Linked DNA regions of Homo sapiens: all the other regions are linked to region 3. Evidence: fine-mapped expression QTL. A gene starts in region 3. Each other region holds a variant in brackets. All regions are shown on one strand. Distances are between the middles of the regions.

Region 1 (8,187 bases), 55 kb after region 3:
TTTGTGTCAGTCTCCTGACATTGTTTTACTGTAACTTCAGTAACGCTCCTGGTTGACGGGGAGCAGGGTGTAGCCAGCACATCCCAGATCGTCAGGATCTTCAGGGGGCTTGAAGAAAATGGAGTCGTGGTTAAACCTCTGATCCTTTCATTGCTCATCTAAGTTGCTCCACATTTCTTGGAGATCTGCATTTCCCAAACTCAACTACGAGCACTTTTTTAGAGTGTAATTTTCAGGATGAGTGATCACTTTGAACCTTAAAACTGAACAAAATTAAATACAAAATCAGTTTGATTGTGTTGTAATCTTGTTAGCACCAGAAGACTATTGCAGTTTACTTTTAGTGATAGAAAAAAAATATATATGTGCAGATACTAAGTTACAGCAAAAGCTGTATTTTAGAACTTTCACATTGTTGACTGAAGTATAAATGGGGACCATGTACGGCTTTAGGTGGAAGTGATTACAGAAATTTTTTTAAGTTCTCATTTTAAGAATTGGAATCTAGGACCGGCGCAGTGGCTCACGCCTGTAATCCCAGCACTTTGGGAGGCTGAGGCAAGGAAGATCACTTGAGCCCAGGAGTTCGAGACCAACCTGGGCAACAGAGGGAGACTGAGTCTCTACAAAAAATTAAAAAACAATTAGCTGGGTATGGTGGCAAGTGCCTGTAGACCCAGCTACTTGGGAGGCTGAGGTGGGAGGATTGCTTGAGACTGAGAGGTTTGAGGCTACAGTGAGTGAGCTGTGTTTGTGCCACTGCACTCCAGTCTAGGCGACAAAGCGAGACCCACTCTGAAAAAAAGAATTGGGGTCTGTAAAGAAAGTTTAAATCTGGTTAAATACATTTTAAAGGGAATAGAGTCCCCTTATATAATGATTGAAGAACAGACCAGCATATGTGGATGGAAGGCACACACCTGGTGGAAAGAAGGAGCTTAGAGGGAAATTAGTTTGCCATTAGAGAATAGCTGTCATAGGACTTTTCATGCAGCACAGTATACCAGACCACCATAAGATTTTTTTTTTTCTCTTTCTGTAGCATCAGTGATTCTCAAAATGTGGTCTCTACACCAACAGCATTGCCATAACCTGGAAGCTTGATAAAAATGCAAGCTTTTGGACGCTAGCCAAGACCTACTGAATCAAACTCGGGCTGGACCCAACAGTCTATGTTGTAACAAGCCCTCTAGGTGATTCTGATGCGTGCTGAAGTTTGAGGACCATTGAATAAGACCATAAGAGCAAGAAACAGTCAAATAGCCTATAAATAGATGCCATCAGGCATGACTTCCTAAAGAGAAAGTAAATGGAAGCCTTTAACATGTGAAATGTAGCAAAACTGGCCAAGTTTTGAAGCTCCAGATGTCCAGGAAAATCTTTAAAAATGAGTTTCAAAGGTATATTCTGGCCAAAAGAAGTCAGGGTGAAATGTAACAATGGTTCCAAAGGTGTAATACTGGTGAAAATGACCCTTAGTTATTCTTAGGAGGTTTTTCCGCCTTATGTCCCCAAAGCTGGATTCCTGAGACTCAAGCCTTACCCTTACCTTACCTTTCCTTGAATTCCAAAGTAAAGTGGAAGGTGGAAGCCAGGCACAGTGGCTCACGCCTGTAATCCCAGCACTATGGGAGGCCAAGGTGGGCAGATCACTTCAGGTCAGGAGTTTGAGACCAGCCTGGCCAACATGGGAAAACCCCATCTCTACCAATAATACAAAAATTAGTTGGGTGTGATGGCGCACGCAGCTCCTTGGGAGGGTGAGGCACAAGAATCGCTTGAACCCAGGAGGCAGAGGTTGCAGTGAGCCGAGATCGCACCACTGCACTCCAGCCTGGGCAACAGAATGAAACTGTCTCAGAAAAAAAAAAAAGTGGAGGGCTGGGAGAGACATGTAAAGAATTCTTGGGACCTATGACATGAACTGCAGTCTCATGCTTTTTATATGCAGGTCATTGTGGGGTGCAGGACTGGCAGGCAGAGCCACTCTGGGAGGAAGTCAAAGGCTGCTTTCTCAGCCCAATGCCCCGTTTGCTGTCACAGTGTGCTGTGAAGATGGATTCCCCACTGCAGTGGGTGTGCTGCTGGCTTGGAAACAGCAGCCTTGGGGTGGCCAGGTTCCCTGGAGTGGAGTGTCCCAATTTCTCTGCACAGTGGAGTGGCTTTTGCCCTCCGTTTTTCTTTATGGGTGGCCACTCATCCTATCCAACTAACTAGGTCCTGTGTCAGGTCAACGATCTTACCCAGATACCAGCCAGATCATCACACATCAGCCATGGGATATTTTTCTCCAAGGCTTTTACTTCCTTAAAATATGATTGCTGATTGAGAAGAGAGAATTTAACAACAGCTTTAATAGCACCTGGCCCTCAATAGACATTTCACTGTGTTTGTTCTGAATGATGACGTAAAACCATTATACAGTAAAATGTGAAAACAGCTTTGATTCAGTAAATCCTGCCCTAGAAAAGACTATTAGAAGAGCCATGAGGCTACCTGTGTCCATGTACCCAAATATTGACCATGGAGCCTCATAAGTACTACTGATATTGATTGCAAACTGAAATCAATGATGTGAAGACAAATATCACAGAGTCACAACAATTCACTGAGGAAATGCTGAGCGTGGGTCAAATGCAGGTCACTGTGAGACATCATGACACATACTCAGGCACAGCTATACATGACAAAGCAAAACAAAGCATTGTCTGGCCACTCCAGCAACTTCTATGATTCAGCAGCTGAAGCAGCAAGGATGGTCTTATTTCCACTGTTTTGATAGAACAGTGGATCACGTGTCTGGCAACACTCGTAGCAACAGCATCTTGTCACACAAAGGAAAATAATACATAGACAATTCCTAGCCACCAGATGTTGGTTTTGAGAATACTACTAGATAGACTTTTTTTAAATAAGCTATATTTTTCTTCTTTTTTTTTTTTTTTTTTTTTTGAGACAGAGTCTTGCTTTGTTACCCAGGCTGGAGTGCAGTGGTGCAATCTTGGCTCACTGCAACCTCCGCCTCCCGGGTTCATGCGATTCTCCCTGCCTCAGCCTCCTGAGTAGCTGGGATTACAGGCACCCACCATCACACCTGGCTAATTTTTGTATTTTTAGTAGAGACGGGGTTTTGCCATGTTGGCCAGGCTGGTCTCGAACTCCTGACCTCAGGTGATCCGCCCGCCTCGGCCTCCAAAAGTGCTGGGATTACAGGCGTGAGCCACCACGCCCATTTTTCTAAGGTTTTACTTACAAATCTGGAAGTGTCTTGTATACCTATATCCTCTTCCTAGTATCTAATAATGTTCTGTATGTTTATACACATCCCCCGTGGCAAGCTACCAAATCTAATTACGTCACTGCTACTCTGTGATTTGCTAGTCAAATTTCATTAGGCTTGAAAGTCTTCAGATCAAAACTAATTTATGGTAATTTTTCAGTTAATAGTTCATGAGATTAGACCACAACACTATGAACCTAGAAACTCTGTAATATAACATTCTTATTTAAAATTATCACTTAAGGGAGTTAGGGTTTTATGACATTTTGATGTTAGTTTCACCATTTTAACTGAACATTTACTATTATCTGGGGACCATTCTAAATATTTTATGTGAACTGACTCATTTGAT[C/G]TTCCTAATAATCCTATGAGGTGGGAATATTGCCATCCCTATTTTTAGATGATCAAACTAAAATGAGAGGTTAAGTGACTTGCTTATGGTCACACAACTAGTTAGTGGTAAAGCCAGGCAGTCTGGATATAAAGTTTGTGCTTTCTACACTTATATTGCCTCTCCAACTCTCACTGAATCAACTAATTACATTTTATTCTATGAATACAGCTTTTTCTAAGACTCTTTAAAAGATGCTTGGAAAATATTATATGGACTTATGATTTTAAACAATTACAAATCTTACGCATTGATCTGGATGAAATCAGGTTCTACAAAGACAACATTTAATTTTCAAGTTTGAGAAGTAACAATACTTTAGTGTAATAAACAATTTTTTTGACAGTCTAGAAAATTGTGATATAATCAAGAATTGACAAACCATGGTCCCCAGGCCGAATCTGGCCCATTGCCTGTTTTTGTAAATAAAGTTTTATTGGAACGCAGCCATGCTCATTCACTTACATATTACCTATGACTGCTTCCAACACTTCAACAGCAAAGGTGAGCAGCTGCAACAGATGTAGTTCATGAAGCCCACAATATTTATTATCTGGCCCTTCACAGAAAAAGTTTGCCAACCCCAAGATATAGATGTTTAGAAGGCATAGGTTGAGAAATACTCCCAAGGATTGGCCAGCACCTCGTTACAGAGGGGTTAGCAAAATCATGAAAGAATGTAATGAGTTAGTTGAAGCAAATGAAAGGCCAAACCCATTAATAACACACCACTCTTTATGCCTGAAGTAGACTGTTACAATAATGGTCCCCAGTGAATCATGCCTATGGGTATCTGTGTCCTTACATAATCCCTTTGTATATTCACTCTTGATCTTGGCTGTGTGACTTGCTTGGCCCACCAAACATGAAGCCGGGAGAAGCTTGACAAGTGCTTCCTCATTAGAGCTTGCCTTCCTGGATCTTAGCATGGAACGAAGTCTGGAGTCACACTGCAGAAGAGGCCACATGAAGAACTGAGGTGTCCCAGCCAACAGCCCCAGCTAACCACCGGACATGTAAGTGGGGCCGTCCTGAACCATCTAGCCTCAGTCAATCCCCAGATAACTGCAGCAGCATGAGTGACCAGAAGGAGAACCAGCAGCTGAGCTCAGTCCAAACTGCAGACCATGAACAAATACAAAGAGGTGACTTTAAGCCACCAGATTTAGGCACAGTTTTTTTATGCAACACTTGACACAGTGCCCTAGCTGATGGATGTCTGATGAGAAATTAGGAGCATCACCTACAGACAGGAAAATATGTCTAAATATTAAAAATGACCCAAAAAATGATACCCATGAGATAACAAGCAAATACCATTAAGGACCCAGGATTTCCTTTTCTTTAAACTCTTGAAGGAAAGAAAAATAGATTAAATAACAAAAACCTTTGCCTTCCATCTAGGAATGGTTAGGTCCTGTAAATAACCAACTCTCGTGTTTCTCTCTGTGGAATCCTTTTTATCCCTATCTACCCAGACAGAATAGAGTCTCTCACATCCTTGTAGATTTTTCTTTCTGCCTGCTGGATGATTCAAAGGCTGGTAGGGATTTGCTGGTGATATGACTTGGCTGTGTCCCCACCCAAATCTCATCTTGAATTGTAGCTCCCATAATTCCCATGTGTTATGGGAGGGACCCAGTGGGAGATAATTGAATCATGGGGGCGGTTTCCATATTGTTCTCATGGTAGTGAATAAGTCTCATGAGATCTGATGATTTTATAAGGGGTTTCCCTTTTCACTTGACTCTCATTCTCTCTTGCCTGCCACCATGTAAGACGTGCCTTTCACCTTTCACCATGATGTAAGGCTTTCTCAGCCACATGGAACTGTGATTCCATTAAATCTCTTAATCTTTATAAATTACCCAGTCTCAGGTATGTCTTTATCAGCAGTATGAAAATGGACTAATATAGCTGGTATGAGCCAAGTAACTGACAAGCCAGTGACTTTAAGGCAAATTATTATAATAATGAGAAAAGGTTTTGGCTTAAATAGCAGTTGTGGGGTGCAAAGAGGGAGCAGGACATCGTGGAACAAAGCCAAGCCACGGTGCTGACATCCTCGCCAAGAGTCCCAGGCTAACCACAGGACAAGCCTGTTGGCCTTCCTGCTGGAGGAGGAGAAGGCAAGTGAGCCTTGTCCATGGCCAGCAAGGTGTGAGTATGCAGGTGGCGTCCCGAACAGTACAGCAGCACGGGGTCCCTAACACTTCATGCTTTCACTTCATATCAGCACTTCCTCTCTCAACCCAGACCCATGCAGTCATTTCAAAGCAGCTCCCTTGAGGTCCACACTAGCCCATGGTCACCCCAGAAGCTAACAATTGCCCCCAGGTACAGGACTGAGAAGGAAGAGAGAAGTTTAAGGGCAGGGAAAGGAGACGCATGATTTGTGGAACATAAATAATAAAGAGAACCAAAATTTCTACTATATACAGCTACAAAACAAACAGCTACAAAAAAATACAGCTACAAAACGAACTTGGGCCATTTCAGCTTGTAATGCATTTAATGGAGGTAGATGGTGAGGATAGTCAGCCTCTACATTGTAAGCTCATTCATTCAACAAATATTCAAGGCTGGGTGCAGTGGCTCACACCTGCAATCTCAGCACTTTGGGAGGCCAAGGCAGGTGGATCATTTGAGCCCGGGAGTTCAAGACCACCCTGGGCAACATGGTGAAGCCCAGTCTCTACAAAATAAAAGATAAAAAAAATTAGCCGGGCATGGTGGTGTGCACCTTTGGTCTCAGCTACATGGGAGGCCAAGCGGGGAGGATCGCTTGAGCCTGAGAGGCAGAGGTTGCAGTGAGCCAAGACTGCACCACGGCACTCCAGCCTGGGTAACAGACTGAGATTCTGTCTCGAAAAAAAAAAAGAGAGAGAGAAAGAGAAATATCCACGGAGTGTCTAAATGTGTGCCAGGCCCCGTGTGGGCACTATAGATGTTGCAATAAATACAGCATTTCTGACATGACTCCTGCCACGTAGGGCTTATTTCCTAGTAGGAGAGGGGAAAAAATATCTATTTGTAAATAAAATAATTACAAGTCATGATGTATGCTGGAAGGAAACAGACAAACTAGATGGGATGGCAGAGAGGAGCCACCTGCTCTTGGAGTGTAAGTGCCTACGTCTTACTCAGGTGTGTGCCTCTCACAGTGTTTACATTTGAATGCAATGTTGTAGCCTCAGAGAGCTAAGCTCCACGTGGTTAGATCTTTTCCCTATTTCAATTTATGGGGTTGCAACATTGACGCAGGCTGAGTGACAGAAGGGAAGGTGGCAGACAGCAGCAGCACTGGGACCAGAGGAAAGGTTAAGCAAGCCTTCCGGGAATGGCCTGCCCTTGCTAGTGCATCTCCTGCAGGGTGGCCTGAGAAGTGAGGTCCCCAGCCATCTCTCTGTGCTGTGGTGCACTCACTCATCAGGGGCCAGCAGCGGGTCCCCACCCTGATGGGTTCTACTCCAGAGCTCTCTAACTGGACTGCCCTCATGGGACCACATAGGAGACAGAAGCCCAGCTCTCCCAGGTCTCTGCAGCGACCTACTAATACTTCAGATCCAGGAAGAGAGCTGCACCTGCGTTTGGCAATCTTATGGAACAGGAACGTGGTCCCCAGGCTTTATCACACCAAGCAGCTGTGTTTTCCAATATCTCCTCGTCTCCCTAAGCACAGGGGTAATAGGGATTGGTTTTCATTTTTTTCTCACTCCTTCCTTTTCTTTTTGAATGTACCATTGCATAAATCCTGTAGTTCATCTTGTTCTATAGCTATGAGTTTAAATCTCGTTTCATGTCATTGTTAGCAATTCTTTCCATAATGGTAATAATCAATAAAAACCCTAGTTAAAACCTGGACAGCTGCCACCCCTTGACCACAGCCAGGGGAAAAAGTATTGCTGTGGTTTTTGATGGTGCTGAGGAGAACAAGGAATTCCTCTCTGAGGATAACCAAACCAAATGCAGAATGTTTTGGTTGTATGACCCAGGTAGGTTACCCTTTAAAAGTTTAAACTCCTTTATTTCAGAAAGTTGAAAAGGCATAACTTCAAAAGGAAGTGAAGTTTCACTCGTTAAAAATTAGGAAGTTTTTTTAAAAATCACATACCTGTGGCCCAGAACATTCTCATTTGATGAAATTTATTTCCATTTTCCTGAAATAGTCTTGATTTTTATTACGAGAGTCAAATACATTGCTTAATATGCCTGCTAAGTTACAAAGGATTAAACAAAGAGAAAGTATCTTTGTTTATTATTATTTTTCTCTTGCCACAGTTCTTTATTTGGGTTAAGGATTGCCTCGTGTTTCCTGACACATTTTTAGGGAAGGATTTTGTTTAGAGTTTTGCCACGTAGTGAATGAACTTGACAACCTTTTTGCCAAAAATCACATCTGTATTTTGCTCCCACTCTTTCCCTCTGAAGTTGTCTGCTTGTGAACGAGAAAGCACATGTATGCTTTCATAAGGCTGTGGGCTCATTATGTCAAAGGAGATGGTGTGGAAGCAGA
Region 2 (8,187 bases), 25 kb before region 3:
GTACTTTACTGATCTGCATTCTTCAGATGAAGAAACTGAGTTTTAGAGAAGTGAATTCACTCACCCAAGGCCACTTAGCTAAGAAGAGATGGCAGAACTGGGATTTGATTCCGGGTCTGCCTCTACAGTTTCTGCTGAACACCACTCTTTACAGAGTGTGCCTCTCACTAAGGAAGAGAGGATCTGGATGATGCTCTGTGTCTTCTACCTGGAAAGAATAAAAACTATCTGGGGTGGAAAGGACTCTTTTCCACTTTTGACAATTCCCTTAAACACCAAACCAAATATAAATACCCACTTTCTTAACATTTATTTTTGAAAATCCTAAAATCTCCTTAAAATCAATATTGAGATCCAAATCCATTAGTTTTCCTGCACAGTGGTGGTTTCATGCAATGAAATTTTACAGAGCTGAAGTCAAAAAACTTCAACCTCACCAGATACTACTGTGCATATGTTATTCTCTGAAACTCTACTCCCTCAACTCTGGGATAAAAATAATATTACCAACTCCCTGAAGCTGTTCTACATATTAAATAAGAATAATATATGTTGTATTAGTCCATTTTTATGCTGCTGATAAAGACATACCCAAGACTGGGTAATTTATAAAGAAAAAGAGGTTTAGTGGACTCACAGTTCCACGAGGGAGGTCTCACAATCATGGCGGCGGGTGGAAGGCATGTCTTACATGGTGGCAGGCAAGAGGGAAATGAGAGAGCATGTGCAGGAAACTCCTCTTTATAAAACCATCAGATCTAGTGAGACCTATTCACTATCAGGAGAACAGCACAAGAAAGACCCCCCCTCATGACTCAATTACCTCCCATGGGGTCCTTCCCACAACACATGGGAATTATGGGAGCCACAATTCAAGATGAGATTTGGGTGAGGACACAGCCAAACCATATCAGATGTGAAAAATATTTTACAAAATTCTCTACAAATATTGTTATTATTATTACCTTTCTATTTCTTTCTTTTTTTTTTTGAGACGGAGTCTTGCTCTGTCGCCCAGGCTGGAGTGCAGTGGCACGATCTCAGCTCACTGCAAGCTCCGCCTCCTGGGTTCACCCGCCATTCTCCTGCTTCAGCCTCCCGAGTAGCTGGGACTACAGGCGCCTGCCACCACGCCTGGCTAATTTTTTTTTATTTTTTTTTATTTTTAGTAGAGACGGGGTTTCATCGTGTTAGCCAGGATGGTCTCGATCTCCTGACCTTGTGATCCACCTGCCTCGGCCTCCCAAAGTGTACCTTTCTATTTATTTCTATAATTTTGTACTTTAGTCATAAAATGTAACAATCTAGAATATTTTCATATTTCTACCTTTATCATGGCTAGGCAATAACAAGGTTTCAATAGAGCAAAAGAATTTCCAAATGTTAATTTTCATAGTTTGCCAAACATACAATAAAAAAATGCTTAAACTATATTGCTCCTGCCATTTTATTTTGCTTGTTTTAACAAGTACAGAGAATATTACATTTAGCTAAGAATGATTTCAGATTAACTTCTCTTACATAAAGCAATCAACTTTTATAATATATATGTGGCAGGTAATAAGCACATAAATGTAATTGCTTTTTAAGAAATATTTGTTTTCAGTGTGGGTTTCAGAGTAAGGTGGAAGACTAAATTATATTATTTTAAATGGCCTCAGTCAGCTAAAACTCTCAGTATCAGTAATAGATTGGGAAATGGAAGCATAGTCATAGAAAAAGGAAAATGAATTTTTAAAAGCATTACACCTCAAACTCGATCATTCTTTCCTATAATGAACACAACAGTCTAGTATTGCAATAAAATTAACAATCACATTTCATAGTATTTCTATATATAGTTACACGTACTCTGTTATTATAACATTTTATTTTATTTTATTTTATTTTATTGTTTTTTGAGATGGAGTCTCACTCTGTCACCCAGGCTGGAGTGCAGTGCTGCAATCTTGGCTCACTGCAACCTCCACCTCCCAGGCTCAAGCAATTCTCCTGCTTCAGCCTCCTTGGTAGCTGGGACTACAGGTGTGCACCACCACATCTGGCTAATTTTTTGCATTTTTAGTAGAGACAGGGTTTTGCCATGTTGGCCAGGCTGGTCTCGAACTCCTGGCTTCAAGTGATTCACCTGCCTTGGCTTCCCAAAGTGCTGGAATTACAGGCGTGAGCCACCATGCCTGGCCAGTTATTATAACATTTAAAAATAGATTTTATTCCAAAGTTTTCTTTTTTATAACCAAGAAACAAAGTACATATGTGTTCATTCTGATGCTAACTTAAAACTGAATTTCTCTCATTCCGTACCTTTTTAACTTTATGTCTGAAGAAAAAAAAACCTGCGTGTTTAGGAAATGCTATTCCATTTACTCCTGCAAAGCCCTTCCCAGCTCTACATGTCTGACTTACAATTGAGGGGGCCTCCATTTCCATTTCCTCTGCCTTTACACTGGTACTAAGTTCTAATCTTGGAATTTCCTTACTCCAAAGTCAGCTGTTATTTGCTGTGTCCCCCTCCCGCCAGTCTCTATTCTGTCCTGCTGCATTTCAGCTGGTTACCTTATGCATCCAATTCTCTGCGGGCCAACGGTTCCCTTTATAGATCTTATAAAAGACAAGACAGACAGGATATTAGCAATCTTCATCTTTAAAAGAAAATTCTGGCTTTGAAATAGTCTTAGAATGGTCTCTGTCCAAAAGCAGAGACGCCAAGTGGCCCTTAGAACAGCCATCTGTGCATGTGTTCATTTGTTCACAGGTGGTGTAGCAAAATGGTAAAAGCATGGTCTCCAGAACAATGTTCCATTCCAGCTCTGCCACTGACTCGCTGTGTGACCTTGGATGACTGACTTAACCTCTCTGTGCCTCAGTTTCCACATCTATAAAATACAGAAAATAATTGTACCCATCTCATAGAGTTATTGTAAGAACGGACTGAGTTAATATGTGTAAAGTGTTTAAACAATTCCTTGAGCATAGCATATGTGCACTGTGTTTCCTATTATTACTATCATTTGTCTATTATTCATTCATAAAATATTTACTGATCTCTATTAATGCTGTTCGGCCAGGTGTTATTATACAACAGTGAGTGAAGCAAAAAATAATAAATAGCCCTTATGAAATCTACAGAGAGACAAATGTTAATCAAATAATCTTACAAATATATGATAATAAATGATATAAATGCATGAAAGATGACTACCCCCTAAAAATCTCGGGCCTATCTACCAGATTTCTTAATGCTCATAGTTCCTCTATTTTTCCCGGGTGGCAGAAAGAAGTGGCCTGGTTACCACAGTCAATGAACTAGTACTGACTTAGTTGTCTGATTCTTTTGTGCCCTATCTCCAAGAAAAGGCCTGTTTCCCACTCTTCCCCA[T/A]CCTGTTCTTGAACCGCTCTGTTGAACAATATACCCACATCTCATGCTTCACCACCACAACACTGCCCCTTTGAAACTCTGCCTTTGCCCTGATTTCTTTAAATCAGCAGTCCCCTTGGACTTGGGTGGCAGTGAGTCTTCTCGTATGGCCTATTATTCCATTTGCATCTCCGAGCTTGCCCTCATATTCCCGTTCCCTTCTAGTATACGTACTTTAGAATACCTGGCTCTGGCTTCAAATGCTGCTTCTGCTATTAGTACTTACCAGGTGTGTGAATTTTACCAAGTTACTCAACCTATCATTTCATCTGTAAAATGGGTATAAAAATATCTATACCACAGAACTGAGAGGCTTAAATAAGACAAACCCACTTACACAACTTATAGTGTCTAACACTCAATGAATAAGTTCACTCACACAACCATATTCATCCCCAGGCAGTGAGGTCATGCATCTAACAAGTATTTATCCCCAAGCACAAAGGATTTTAACAGGTTAAAAAAATACATAAATCATTTCTTCATTTGTGAAAACTGCAATTCTATTAGGAGAGGCAGCCAAAAGTTGAAAGAATGTAAATTGTAATGAGAACCATATAGGAAACAATAAAAATTCCTGAGACAGAAAAACAAGAGAGACTTGCTAGAGTTCAAGTGGCCAAGAAAGGGGGAGAAAAAGAAGCAGCCAAAGGAAGACGTTTGTGCAAAGGTCCTGAGGTAGAAAGATTAGCATATTTGAGCACCTGAAACACCACTGTGGCTAGAACCTGAGGAATCAGGGATGAAGAGACACAGATGGGGTTGAAGAGATGACCCTTCTAGGCCTCCATGGTACATGGTTTGGAGTTTACTTGCAGTTTAATTCCTCTCCCTTCTATACCACCTCCAGGCCCCAGTTTTGTGTTTTAAATACCAGACAGCTATTGCTATACAAAAGCCTAGCTGAGCTCCATCCTAGGAGTTGATCTTTTTAATACTAACCCAGTTCTTTATGGAATAATGAGGTTCAAGGGAGAGAAAGATTATGTGGTATACACAATGTTCTTCTGTTTTCTCCCTCCTTTTCCAACAGAGCCCTCAGACTCACTTCCATCTCTGTGCTTTCCCTGGAAATGTCCTTCAGTCCCATGGCTTTATGTGGCATTTGTAACCCAACGACTCCCAGTTTATATCTCCAGCTGTGACCTTTCTGCACTCTGGGTGCATATCCAATGGCCTACTTTACCTGACTACTTGGGTATCTAAAAGGCATCTCAGATTTAACACAACTGGAAGAGAACCCTTCACTTTTGCCCTCCAAACCTGTACTTCTCCCAGTCTTTCCTCTTCCTATCACCATCCAACCTTTTGTTCAAATCAAAATTGTAGATATAATCTTTGATTCCTCCCTTTCTCCTGCCCTCTTGCATCCAATGTATCAAGTCTTGCCAGTCACACATCTAAAATAGATCATTTATCTGTCTATTTCTCTAACTCAATGGCCACTGCCCAGGTCAGCCTGGGCTACTGAAATAGTCTTCTAAATGATCAATATATTTTCCCAAAAAAGCAGTCGCTTGTTGAATATTACCTCCAACAATCTACTCAAATACCAGAAAAAGTGATCTGTTGAGAACATAAACATAAATAGCATAACGTTACTCCTGTGCTTAAAACCTCCAGTGACCTCCCATCGTACATGGAGTACAACTCAAGACCCTTAACCTGGACCCAAGAACCTACACCACCTGGCCCCTTAGCTTCCCATTCCTGCATCACTGCTATTCCTCTTCTCCTGTGTCACCTAAGTTCCAACCATACTGTCTTCAAATACACCCTGAGGGTTTTTGCCGTACATCTTCATGCATCTTGTTCCCTCTGCCAAGCACATCCCGTCTCCAGATCTTTGCAGGTCTGACTTTTTCTTTATTTTATTTATTTTTAATTTACAATGCAGCTGTGCTTGGAAAGTCTGGCTTTTTCTTATCGTTTAGGTCTTGCCTCAAATAATTCCCCTTCAGAGAAGCCTTCCCTACCTTCTCATTTTTTTTTCATCTTTTTTAAATTTTTTTGAGACAGAGTCTCACTCTGTCACCCAGGCTGGAGTGCACTGGTGAGATCTCAGCTCACTGCAACCTCCACCTCCCAGGTTCAAGTGATTCTCCTGCCTCAGCCTCCCAAGTAGCTGGGATTATAGGTGCCCATCACCACACCTAGATAATTTTTGTATTTTTAGTAGAGACAGCGTTTCACCATGTTGACCAGGCTGGTCTCAAACCCCTGATCTCAAGTGATCCACTCTCCTCAGCCTCTCAAAGTGTCTGGATTACAGGTGTGAGCCACTGCACCTGGCCCCTGGCTTCTCATTTTAGAGAAGCCACTCATTCCTCAAGTCATTCTCTGCAATAGCTCTGCATGGTAGAACTTCCTGTGATGATGGAAATGTTCTCAAGTGCTATTCCATGCAGTAGCCACCAGCCAGGCACATGTGGCTACTGAGTTCTTAAAACCAAGTAACTGTGGCTGAGAAACTGAATTTCTAATTTTATTTCATTTTAATTTAAATAGCCCTGTGTATGGGTAGGGCCTACCCCATTAGAGAGAATAGCTCTATAGCATCACCATGTTTTATTCTCCTCAAAGCTCTAATAACTACCTGAAGTTATCATGTTCATTTCTTTCAAAAGTTCCATGAGGTCAGGGACCTGGTCTATCTAGAAAAACTGCCACACACACAAAAAAGTACTACATACATTATGTATTTCTGCATAACAAATTACTATAAATGTAGCAGCTTAAAACACCACACAATTCTTATCTCACAGTTTCTGTGAGGTCGGGAGCCCTGGGCATGGCTTAGCTGGGCATGTGCTCTGCTTCAGTGTCTCTTACAGATCAGCAATCAAGGTATTGGCCAGGGCTGGGATCTCATCTGAAAGCTCAACTGGGAAAGGATCTGCTTCCAAGCTCACATGGTTGTTGGCTGAGGTCAGTTCTTCAAGGGCTATTGGAAGGAGATCCTCAGCACCCAGCTGGCTGTTGGCTGAAAGCTGCCACCAGTCCTTTGCCACCCCAACATAGCAGCTCATTTTGTGGCAGCTTGCTTTATCAATGTGTGCAAGCCAAGAAGGAAACAGCAAGAGAGGAGTTACAATCTTATGTAAACTATCATAGAAGTAATATCTCATCACCTTTGCTGCATTCTACTGGTTAGAAACAAGTCACTAGGCCAGCACACACTCAAGGAGAGAGGATGATGCAACAACATAAACACCAGAAGGCAAAGATCACTGGCGTCTGCCTACCCCAGGCAGCTATTACATATTTGCTGAGTGGATGAATGAGTGAAAGGATGAAGGCAAATATCACTGGCGTCTGCCTACCCCAGGCAGCTATTACATATTTGCTGAGTGGATGAATGAGTGAAAGGATGAAGACCCTACTCTACTCTGGCTGAGTTATGCCAGTGTAGCCCCTTTTTCCTCACTGTGAAAGATAAAGTCTTGTGTTAGAAATTATCAAAGAAGAAATAGAGATTCTTTCCCTAATGAAATCTGAAAAAAATATTAAAGCTATGGAAAAGGAAGTTTCTTAGCAAAGTAGACAGATTCTTACTTGATAACTGTTAAGAGCATGAACAAGCCTGGGCAACATAGCAAGACTTCATCTCTAAAAATAAAAAAAATAAAATATAGAAAAAAATAGCCAGGCATGATGGCTCATACCTGTAGTCCTATCTAGCTACTCAGGAGGCTGAGGTGGGAGGATCACTTGAGCCTAGGAGTTCAAGGCTACAGTGAGCTAGGATCACGCCACTGCAATCCAGTGTAGGCAACAGAGAGAGAGACCCCACCTCAAAAAAAAAAAAAAAGTATGGGCCCTGAAGTCAAAATGCTCAGATTCAAAGCCTAAGTCTGCATTTTTACCATTTGTGTACTTGAACTCCTTTGTGTCTCAGTTTGCTTATAGGATTATTGTCAGGATTTAATGAGTTAATAGGTGAACATTTTATAGAACAGCACCTGGCACAGAGTACATACTTAAGAAATGTTAGCTATTATTATTGTTATCACTACTATAATAACCGAATTTTTTTTTGGAAAACAAATTTTCCACTTCTAAGGCTGTTAATGTAATTCTTACAAGCTAATGATTGTATCACTCTGGGTTCTTAGTTGCAGGCAAGAAAAAATCAACTCCAGCTGAGTTAAGCAGAAAATGGAATCTATTAAAAACATAGTGGGTGACTCCCAGAATCACTGAAAGAACTGGAAAATGGACAGGGAGTTGTGCAGCTGATAACAACACCCAAAATCACAAGGTAGAACCCTCTGTCCCCTTGGTCTGCCAACGCCCCTAGTCCCAGATGCTGCACATGGCCAGCTACCCTAAGGAACTCAGTCCTCCTCCAGCTGCTGCTCCTACAGAATGTGATTCTTCCAGCGCGCACATCACTGGTAGGCTGTAAGAACACTGCTGGTTTCTCAGCCTGCTCCATCACATTGATGAAGGCTAGGTCTCAGAGATATGCCTGAAGAGCTGGTATTTGGCATTTTCTTCTTCTATGGTTACAGGCAAGTCTGCCTCCTTCCAAGACTCATTGGAAGGGTAATTTCCAAAACATAAGATGAGCATTCCCACGCTGGACAGCCAAAATAATTTTAAAAGCAAATGTCCACTAGAATAGCCATTAATGATTTCTCCTTGTTGAACATGATTTTTTAATCCACATATTAAAAATTCAATAAGTTCCTGCAGATAAGTTCTCTCAAGGCAAGGATTTATATCTCTCATTATATTCCTTTCTAGGTCTACATGGTAGTTTTGAA
Region 3 (8,187 bases):
CCAGAGTAGCTGAGATTTTACAGGCACCTGCCACCATGCCCGGCTAATTTTTTGTATTTTTAGTAGAGATGGGGTTTCACTATGTTGGCCAGGCTGGTCTCAAACTCCTGACCTCGTGATTCACCCGCCTCGACCTCCCAAAGTGCTGGGATTACAGGCATGAGCCACTATACCCGGCCTCCTTGTCCTTAAGTGAGCACTGGAAAATGTGATCTCCTTAAAGTCTGAGCAGCGTTCTCAGACAACTCTGTCCACAGAAGGTTGAAGCCCCACTCCCACTTGGAGTCTATTTACAGTTTCCTTTAGTCTTGACTGATAGCTATTTTGGCATGTCTCTCAAAAATTTAGCCAGCTTCTTCCATATTTGATTCAAGCTAGCTCCACATACCATGATTGTGTGTGTCTCCACTGCACTAAGTCACAACTTTCTCTTTTAATTCTTTCTTGTAGGTACCTTGAATCTATCCAGCTCTGTCATGGGAAGACCTGTGCCATGTTGTTCAACTGAAAAGATTCATGGGGTACCACTTTAATCTATTCGGAGGTTTTAGTCATGGGTGTGACTATCACACCCGTAATTTGATCCTTGCCAAGAGGTTGAGTTCTAATCAACCTTTGTTGCTCATCTCAGTTTTGTTTTTAATGAATAATAATGAGAATCACTTGCATCTTCTAAACGTGCATGTCTCCAAGTTTATAGCTTCCTATAATCACTTTCTTTCCTAACTGCAAGCTGGACAATTATTTTCTAAACTCATCATTTCCTGTAGTATTGAGACAGGAGAATAGGGTCTGGAGGCACGGAGATTAATTAAATCTTTTTTAATCATCTAAGGCTGATTCACACTGACTTCCTAAAACTAAATCAAAAGGAAAACCCCAACTTCCCATGCCTAAGTAACAAATGGACTCAAGGCTACTCCCTTTGCAACCCCCATCTTTTCTGAGTGTCAGATAAAAAATTGTAAGTACCTCTGACTGGTCCCCTCCTGCAGTCAATCAGGCTGGTCACAGGCCAAGTCTTCCTTTGCATAGGAGTATAACTTTGTAACTTCACTTCAGCCTCTGATTCATCACTTTCTGCAACCAATTAGTCGTTTGCATAGGGTGTAACTGTAACTTTGCTTCAGTCTCTGATTGTTCCCCTCCTGCAACCAATCAGACTGATTGCGGGCCACTACTTCATTTACATAGGGTGTACACCAAGTAACCAACAGGAAACCTCTAGAGTGTATTTAAACCCCAGAAAATTCTGTAACCAGGTCCTTGAGCCACTTTCTCCAGCCTGTTCCCACGCTACAGAGTGTGCTTTCATTTTCAATAAATCTCTGCTTTTGTTGCTTCATTCTTTCCTTGCTTTGTGCATTTTGTCCAATTCTTTGTTCACAGTGCCAAGAACCTGGACACCCTCCACCAGTAACAGTATTTTATATAGTCAATAGTTACTGATACATGCCACCAGCTTTCCATTTTCTGGCCTTTTCCTCTAGAACTACTAGACCTTCCCCATATTATTACAGTTTTGCCAAAGGTTTCACTCCTGTGAGTATGAATCACCATCTTTACGGCTTCTCCTATCACTTCCTTTGTTGTATACTCCCCAGCCACTGAGCCAATGCCATTTATTTAAAGGTTTTGTTCTAGTAACATTCCCATTCTGACACTAATTTCTGTGTTAGTCAAGATTGGTTCAGTGTTCCTCTAGTAATAAACACCACAATTTCAATGGCTGAAAACAATACAAGTTAAATTCATATTCATCCTATATATCCATTATAGGACAGTGAGGGAGCTCTGCTCATTGTAGTTACACAGGAACCCAGACTGACTGTGTAGCCACTATCTTGCATGTTGCTAGTTGCTGTAGTAGAAGGAAAGAGTTCTGAAGGGTCTTACAATGACAAGCCTGGAAGTGACTCATTTCACGTCTGCTCATAACTAATAGGCCAAAATTAGTTACATGATATTATTCAACTACAAGCCAGGAAGAGCAGTTCTCTCTTGTGCCCAGAATGGCAGACAAAGGAATTATTTGTTTAACACCATGAATACTTACCAAAATAGGTAAACAAAAAAGATAATTAAAATACTTGTGACATGTGCTGTAAATGGGGGAAAAGCTGGGCCCTGTAAGTAATTGAAGGACCTATTTAAAGTGGGTGGTCTGGGAGGTCTCTCTGAAGGTTTGCATTGAAACCTCAAAAGTCAGATGGAGTGAACAAGACTTAGATGAAGAACATTCCAGAGAAGAAACAAGAAGCATAAAGGCCTTAGGGTGGAATGAGCTTGGTTTAGCTTGAAACTGACAGAAGACAAGATATTTCAAAATCAAAGAAACAATGGGGGTGGCAAGGGACTGTCATGAGATAGGAGATACTATCACCTACCATCAGCAGTCAGTGCACAGAAGGCCCTGAAGGCCATATCAAGTAGTTAGGATTTTAACCTACCTGCAATAGGAAGCCTTTGAAAGGCCTTAGGACAACAAGTGCATGTTTAAGTTTTAAAAGAGTAACTCCCAAAGTGGGGAATTATCTAGAAAAGGATGAGTGAAAATAGGACACCAACAGGGAGGCTATCATAGCACATAGCATCATAGCAGTGTAGACAGAGATGACAGTGACAGGGATGGGGGATATGTGAGGGTGCAGGGAGTAGTAATAGTGAAGATGGCAAGAAATGAACAAATTTAAGACATATTTTGAAATATTTACTGATGGATTGAATAAGAGAAAAGTTGAGAATGGGAAGAGTGATTATGACTCCCATGTTTCTGGTTTTAGTGATAGGGTGGTTGGCAGCGCCATTTACAGAGATATGTGGGGGACAACTAGGTTTAACATCTACAGGAGACCAGATCCTATTCTGGACATGTTAAGTTTGAGAAATCCAAATGAGTAAGAAGTTAAATATAAGAATAGATCACATAGGAAAAGTCTAGTTAAAGATTTTTTTTTTAGATGATCTTGCTCTGTCACCCAGGCTGGAATGCAGTGGTGCCATCATAGCTTACTGTGGCCTCAAACTCCAGGGCTCAAGTAATCCTCCTGCCTCAGCTTCCCAAGTAGCTGGGAAGGCAGAAGTCCGCCACTGTACCCAACTAATTTTTTTAATCTTTGTGTTTTGTAGAGATGGTGTCTCATTTTGTTGCCCTGGCTGGTCTCCAACTCCTGGCTTCAAGCGATCTTCCAGCCTTGTCCTCCCAAGGTGCTAGGATTACAGGCATGAGCCACTGCACCCGGCCAAAGATATAAATCAAGAGCTCTCAGCATGATGTAACTCAGAAATCACACAGGTGGGAGTGTGTTGGAGAAGAGATGGAGATTCTAGGACTTGCCTAACAAATTCCCCCTTGAGATTTGTTTCCAGAAATCGTATCACTATTGGGTATGTGGATTTGTATTTCTAATTATCAGGGAGTAAAATTAACAAATGACAATCTAGGTAGATGTTAATATTTGGAGGGATTTCTTCTGATTTGAAACCCATTTGCTATTCTACTCTAAATGATAGCAAAAAAAAAAAAAATACATTTCCAAACACTATTGACATCCCCATTTTACACAAGTGGAAAACTGAAGCAGAAGGGGGTTCAGTAACTTGCCCAAGAAGACACAAAATTAGCAAGAAGTGGGACCTGTATCGCAAACTAAACAATTTGGCTCCAGAGTCTGTTTGGAACCCCTACACTGTACGGCAATGGTGGTAAAGTAGCTTAGTTAATGTGTTTAGTGGGTTACAAATAATAGATTATATATATGAGTTTTATATATAGTAATAGTTATATATGTATATATATTATACGTATATTTCTAGCTCCAATAAGAGCTTTTATTGGATCTATGTTCATGTGCGCATGCCTGGATCATTAGGGTTGTGAGGAACAATTCAAGTGGTAGCTATGCACTATGGCATTACAACTAAACCCTAGGAAGAACAGAACTGACTTCACCAGAACAGTCCTGAAGTTTCAAACCATTAAAAACAAACAGTAAATTTAAAAAACGCAAATTGTACTAGACAGTTTGGTTTGCTCCACTTTACGGCATCAAACTGAATGCCTGGACGTCATTTGCTGGTCAGGAAGATGAGTTAATTTTTTTTTTCCTGCCACACACTTAAGTTTTTTGCTCCAGGGAACATTATACATAGTGTTAACACACTCAATTTACATTGTAGTTTTAGTGTTGAAGATTTCCTGGAGGGCAGGAATAGCGTTATTCCATCGTTTTTAGCCCAGTCAGACTGGATGACGGAGAGAGGGAGGGGTGAAAAGGAGGGAGGGAAGGGGAAAAGGCAAGGAAGAAGGAATTCAAATTAAACACTCTTCCTATACATTTTTAGAAGCTGAGCAAGATGCCCTCCAAGATTATGTTTTTTAAAAAGTAAAGTTTTTCCCATTAATGGTGGTGCAGAAGCGTCCTAATCCCATCGAAAGTACTCTCACTCTTCCTCCATTCGCTGTCTTGACCTCCCCCGGGCCTCCTTCATTCTGCCTCCCAGTCCCGCCCACTTGTCGCCGGCTCCTACCCTCCACTCTAGCCTTCCCGGCAGCCTGTACATTGCGCATGCGCACTAGTGGCGTTCGCGCCGCGGACCCAGAGAGAGGCGTTCCGCGGAGGAGAAGAGGAAGAGGAAGTTGGGGGAGGGTCCTAGCGGGGAGTGAACCGGAAGTGTAAAGGTTCCTGCCTCTCCTCGGCCAGGCGGAACCTCTCTGCTGGGCCCGGTGGCCGCAAAAGAACTTTCTTTCTCCCGCCCGAACGGTCGCCGCGGCCAACTGCCTCGCCCGCCTGGCAGCCTAACCCTCCTTCTCTTCTTCTCCTCTCCGGCTTCGCGCGGCCCTGCCTCCCTCTCGCCCGGCGGCATCCGCTTGCTGCTGCCACCGCCTCCTCATCTTCTGCCCGGCCAACCGGCCTGCCCCGCTGCAGTGATGTGCGACAAGGAGTTCATGTGGGCCCTGAAAAACGGAGACTTGGATGAGGTGAAAGACTATGTGGCCAAGGTAAGCGGGGATGAGAAGAGTAGGCGAGAACACGGAGGTGGGCTGGAGATGAGGCTGAGGAAGCTGATGGGAGCTGGACTGCGGGGATGGGGGTGGGCGGGAGGAGAGACTTCCTGGGTGGAGGCGGCACCAAGGAGAGAGGGGCGTCTAGGGAGGAGCTAAACTGAAAGAAGGGTCCAGGTAACTTGGTAGCGTTCTGTGTCAGGTAACTGCTGCGTTAATACAGTTAGGCGCTACCTGACTTCCTGGCCTCTTGGGGGAGGGGAGGAGTGGTGTCTGGCTCATCCAGAGTTTCTTCTGCGCACTGATCATTTGAGTTTGGCCCTCTTCTACACCAAAGTTACTTAAACCTTTCTTTGAATGAGGTAATTCTCCATCTTGGACTTACCCATTACTAAATGAAGTAACCTAAGTAATTAGGATCAGAGGAACATGTTTTTTAACTCTCGGCCTGGTGTGAAGTTGAAGAATTCATTGACCGTGAAAAGAGTACCGAAAATAGAAATAGTTAAAATTCTGAAACTGAGTATCACTTCACTGTGGTGTCTTAACTTTGGGTGTGGCCTTTTTCCTTTCCCCCACCACAACAAATACATATTTGCTTCAAGTGGTAAGGTTGTCAACTGGCATCTGGGAATGTTTAAGGTATCTGAATAGTTTTTAAACAAGCATGTTAACTTCAGTTATTCCATTCTTCTCCCTGATTTCACCTGAAATGCTTACATGTGTAGTAAATAGCAATGCAGTTTAGTGGCAGTGTATTTGGGGGGTAAAATCATGATGAAGAAAGACAAACTCAAACCTCAGCCCCAAATATAAAACTGAATCGACATTGTGGCAGAGTGGGAAACTTAAAATTCCAAGCTAGCCTGTCTTTCCATCCTGAAACTGTGCCTTTGTAATTATGAGAGAACTTAACATGTGATTTTAATTTAGTGATAATCTAAAATGAATCTTCCAAAACAAGTATAATTTTATGACAACCACGGATGGCATCTTGCTCACCTTCTAAAAGTGTGAGAACCCAGTCTAGATTTTAACTCTTCAAAGAATAGGACCTGACCTGGGTTTTTGCTTCAGAGGCTGTGTTAGGAAGCAAGTAAGCGAAGCAGTTTCTTAAAACTTACAGGATTGTGCAAGGCAAACTGCTGAAGGTTTTTACTTTATTTAATGCCATTACAATTTAGACTTTTTGGATGCTGCTTACCTGCTTAGTTTTTTGCAGTGGAGTTTTAGGACAGGCTGTCTTCTCGTCACTGCCTTCTCAGCTGGTAGCCAACTGAAACTTGACTTATTGGCTATTTCAATATAAAGCTAAAAGGTAGAAATTATTTGGTACACTTACCAGTGGTGGGACACTGCAATACTCTGGAAGTAAGTGGGCTTTTGTTTTCCTGTCATGGTGGAACCTAGGTTGTTTGATATACTTGAAATACAAAAAGTTGATTAAGTACTAACTGAACTTACAGCTACCAAAATAACACAATGTATTTAGTGTTTTCCTGACACATTATTTTATGTCATCCTTGTGAATACTGGGAAGTAAGTCCTATTATTGGTCCCATTTTACAGATTACTGAGATGCAGGATACTTAAGAAAAGTTATGGAGATGGTAAATTGTGAAGCAAGAACTAAATTGCTGACTCCAAAACTGAAACTCTTTAACTGCTCCACGCACTATCTCTCAGTCTAAGATCTAATTGTGAAAGCGTATCATACCAAGATTTCTAGTAGGACATTCCCAGGGTCCACATTCAGGCAGGTAAATTGTGCCCAAAGAATTCTCAACTACACAAAAATATTTATATGAAAATATATGCCAATAAAGATGGATTAATTTATTTCCAATTAGTTTTATAATTAGGTTAGGTTATCATGTTCAATTTGATTATTTTCCCTATATTACTACCGTAGCCTGTTCTTCATTAATGTAAAAAATTTGCATAAGAGGGAGGGTAGACATTCAGAAAAAGCAAAAGGGAGTATTGAAAGTTGGACTATCCAAAAAGATATGACTGTAACTGTAATGTAATCTGATGTACAGAGCATTGAGCTTTATCCTTTCTTAGTTTTGAAGATTTCATAAAGTATCTTTCACTTTGTTAATGAGAAATAATAACAAGAACTGAAGTTTATACTGACTCAGCTCCCTTACGGTGCCCATTTATACTTTCAGGTCCTTATTACAGTTTCTTCTGCCCCACAGCTGTCTTCCCTGCTTATTTATTGACTCACATTTTTCATCTACCAATTTGTGAACACTCACTTTTTGAGTTTCTGTAATGTGCATCTATCTGAGTAGGTGTGTACAAAGAAAATACTAAAGAAACACTTAGACCTGTCTAGTCTTCATTCTCAGGGGTGAGAGTCTATTTTAAAAACTCTCCTCAACATTCCTGTGAAGATCTCTCATATTGTTAACCTAAGAATCTACCTGTAAGAGTAAGATAAGCATTTTAGTATTCCCCTCCTCCTCCTCTTTTTTTTGGAAACAGGGTTTTTTTGTTTTTGTTTTTCGGAGACAGGGTCTTTGCTTTGTCGCCCAGGCTAGAGTGCAGTGTCGTGATCATAGCTCACTGTAACTTCAGCCTCCTGAGCAGCTGGGACCATAGATGTACACCACGACACCCAGCAAATTTTATTTTTTGTAGAGACTGGATCTCACTTTGTTGTACAGGCTGGTCTCAAACTCCTAGCCTCAAGCGATCTTCTGGCCTCGGCCTCCCAAAGCACTGGGATTACAGGTGTGAAAGCACTGGTTCACAGGTGTGAACCCGTTTTTCCTTTATAAATTAGTATTTTTAAAAGTCAGTAATTACACTTTTCTACCTGCCTCTGACTTCTCTATTAAAGTTCGAAGTGTGAGTATCCCTAAATCATTGGTTTTAGGTGAGTTCTTGAACTTAGAAAAGTCAGTTCACAGTCCCCAAACCACTGAAAATTGTATTTTGAAATGGAAAAGACAGTATTGAGAGAAAAATTTAGATTATTTAGAGAAAAATTTAGATTATTACATTAAATGTTTCATGTATAACTTTAAGACAATATCTGAAGCAATTTTAAAGTCTTTCAACACTACATTTGGCTTCTTGACTGACTTAAGGACCACATTTAGTTAATTCATTCATTTTTACTAGGCATCTTTCAGGTCTTAAACTCTTTAGTAGTCCTGGGATGATAGTAC

What was found.
Region 1: its variant is fine-mapped to the expression of MTPN in sun-exposed skin (GTEx, PIP 0.94).
Region 2: its variant is fine-mapped to the expression of MTPN in whole blood (TOPMed, PIP 0.92).

What each region holds. Positions count from the first base shown.
Region 1 is chr7:135,918,378-135,926,564 of GRCh38, reverse strand. No RefSeq gene overlaps it. Among named protein-coding and RNA genes, the nearest start is that of MTPN, 55 kb to the left of the region's middle. The variant C/G (reference allele first, on the strand shown) is at 3,633.
Region 2 is chr7:135,998,921-136,007,107 of GRCh38, reverse strand. It overlaps a transcript of LOC105375523 not described here. Among named protein-coding and RNA genes, the nearest start is that of MTPN, 26 kb to the right of the region's middle. The variant T/A (reference allele first, on the strand shown) is at 3,380.
Region 3 is chr7:135,973,844-135,982,030 of GRCh38, reverse strand. MTPN (myotrophin) reads left to right here and starts at 4,672. Exons shown (of 4, transcript NM_145808.4): 1 at 4,672-5,002. The coding sequence starts at 4,931. It also overlaps a transcript of LOC105375523 not described here.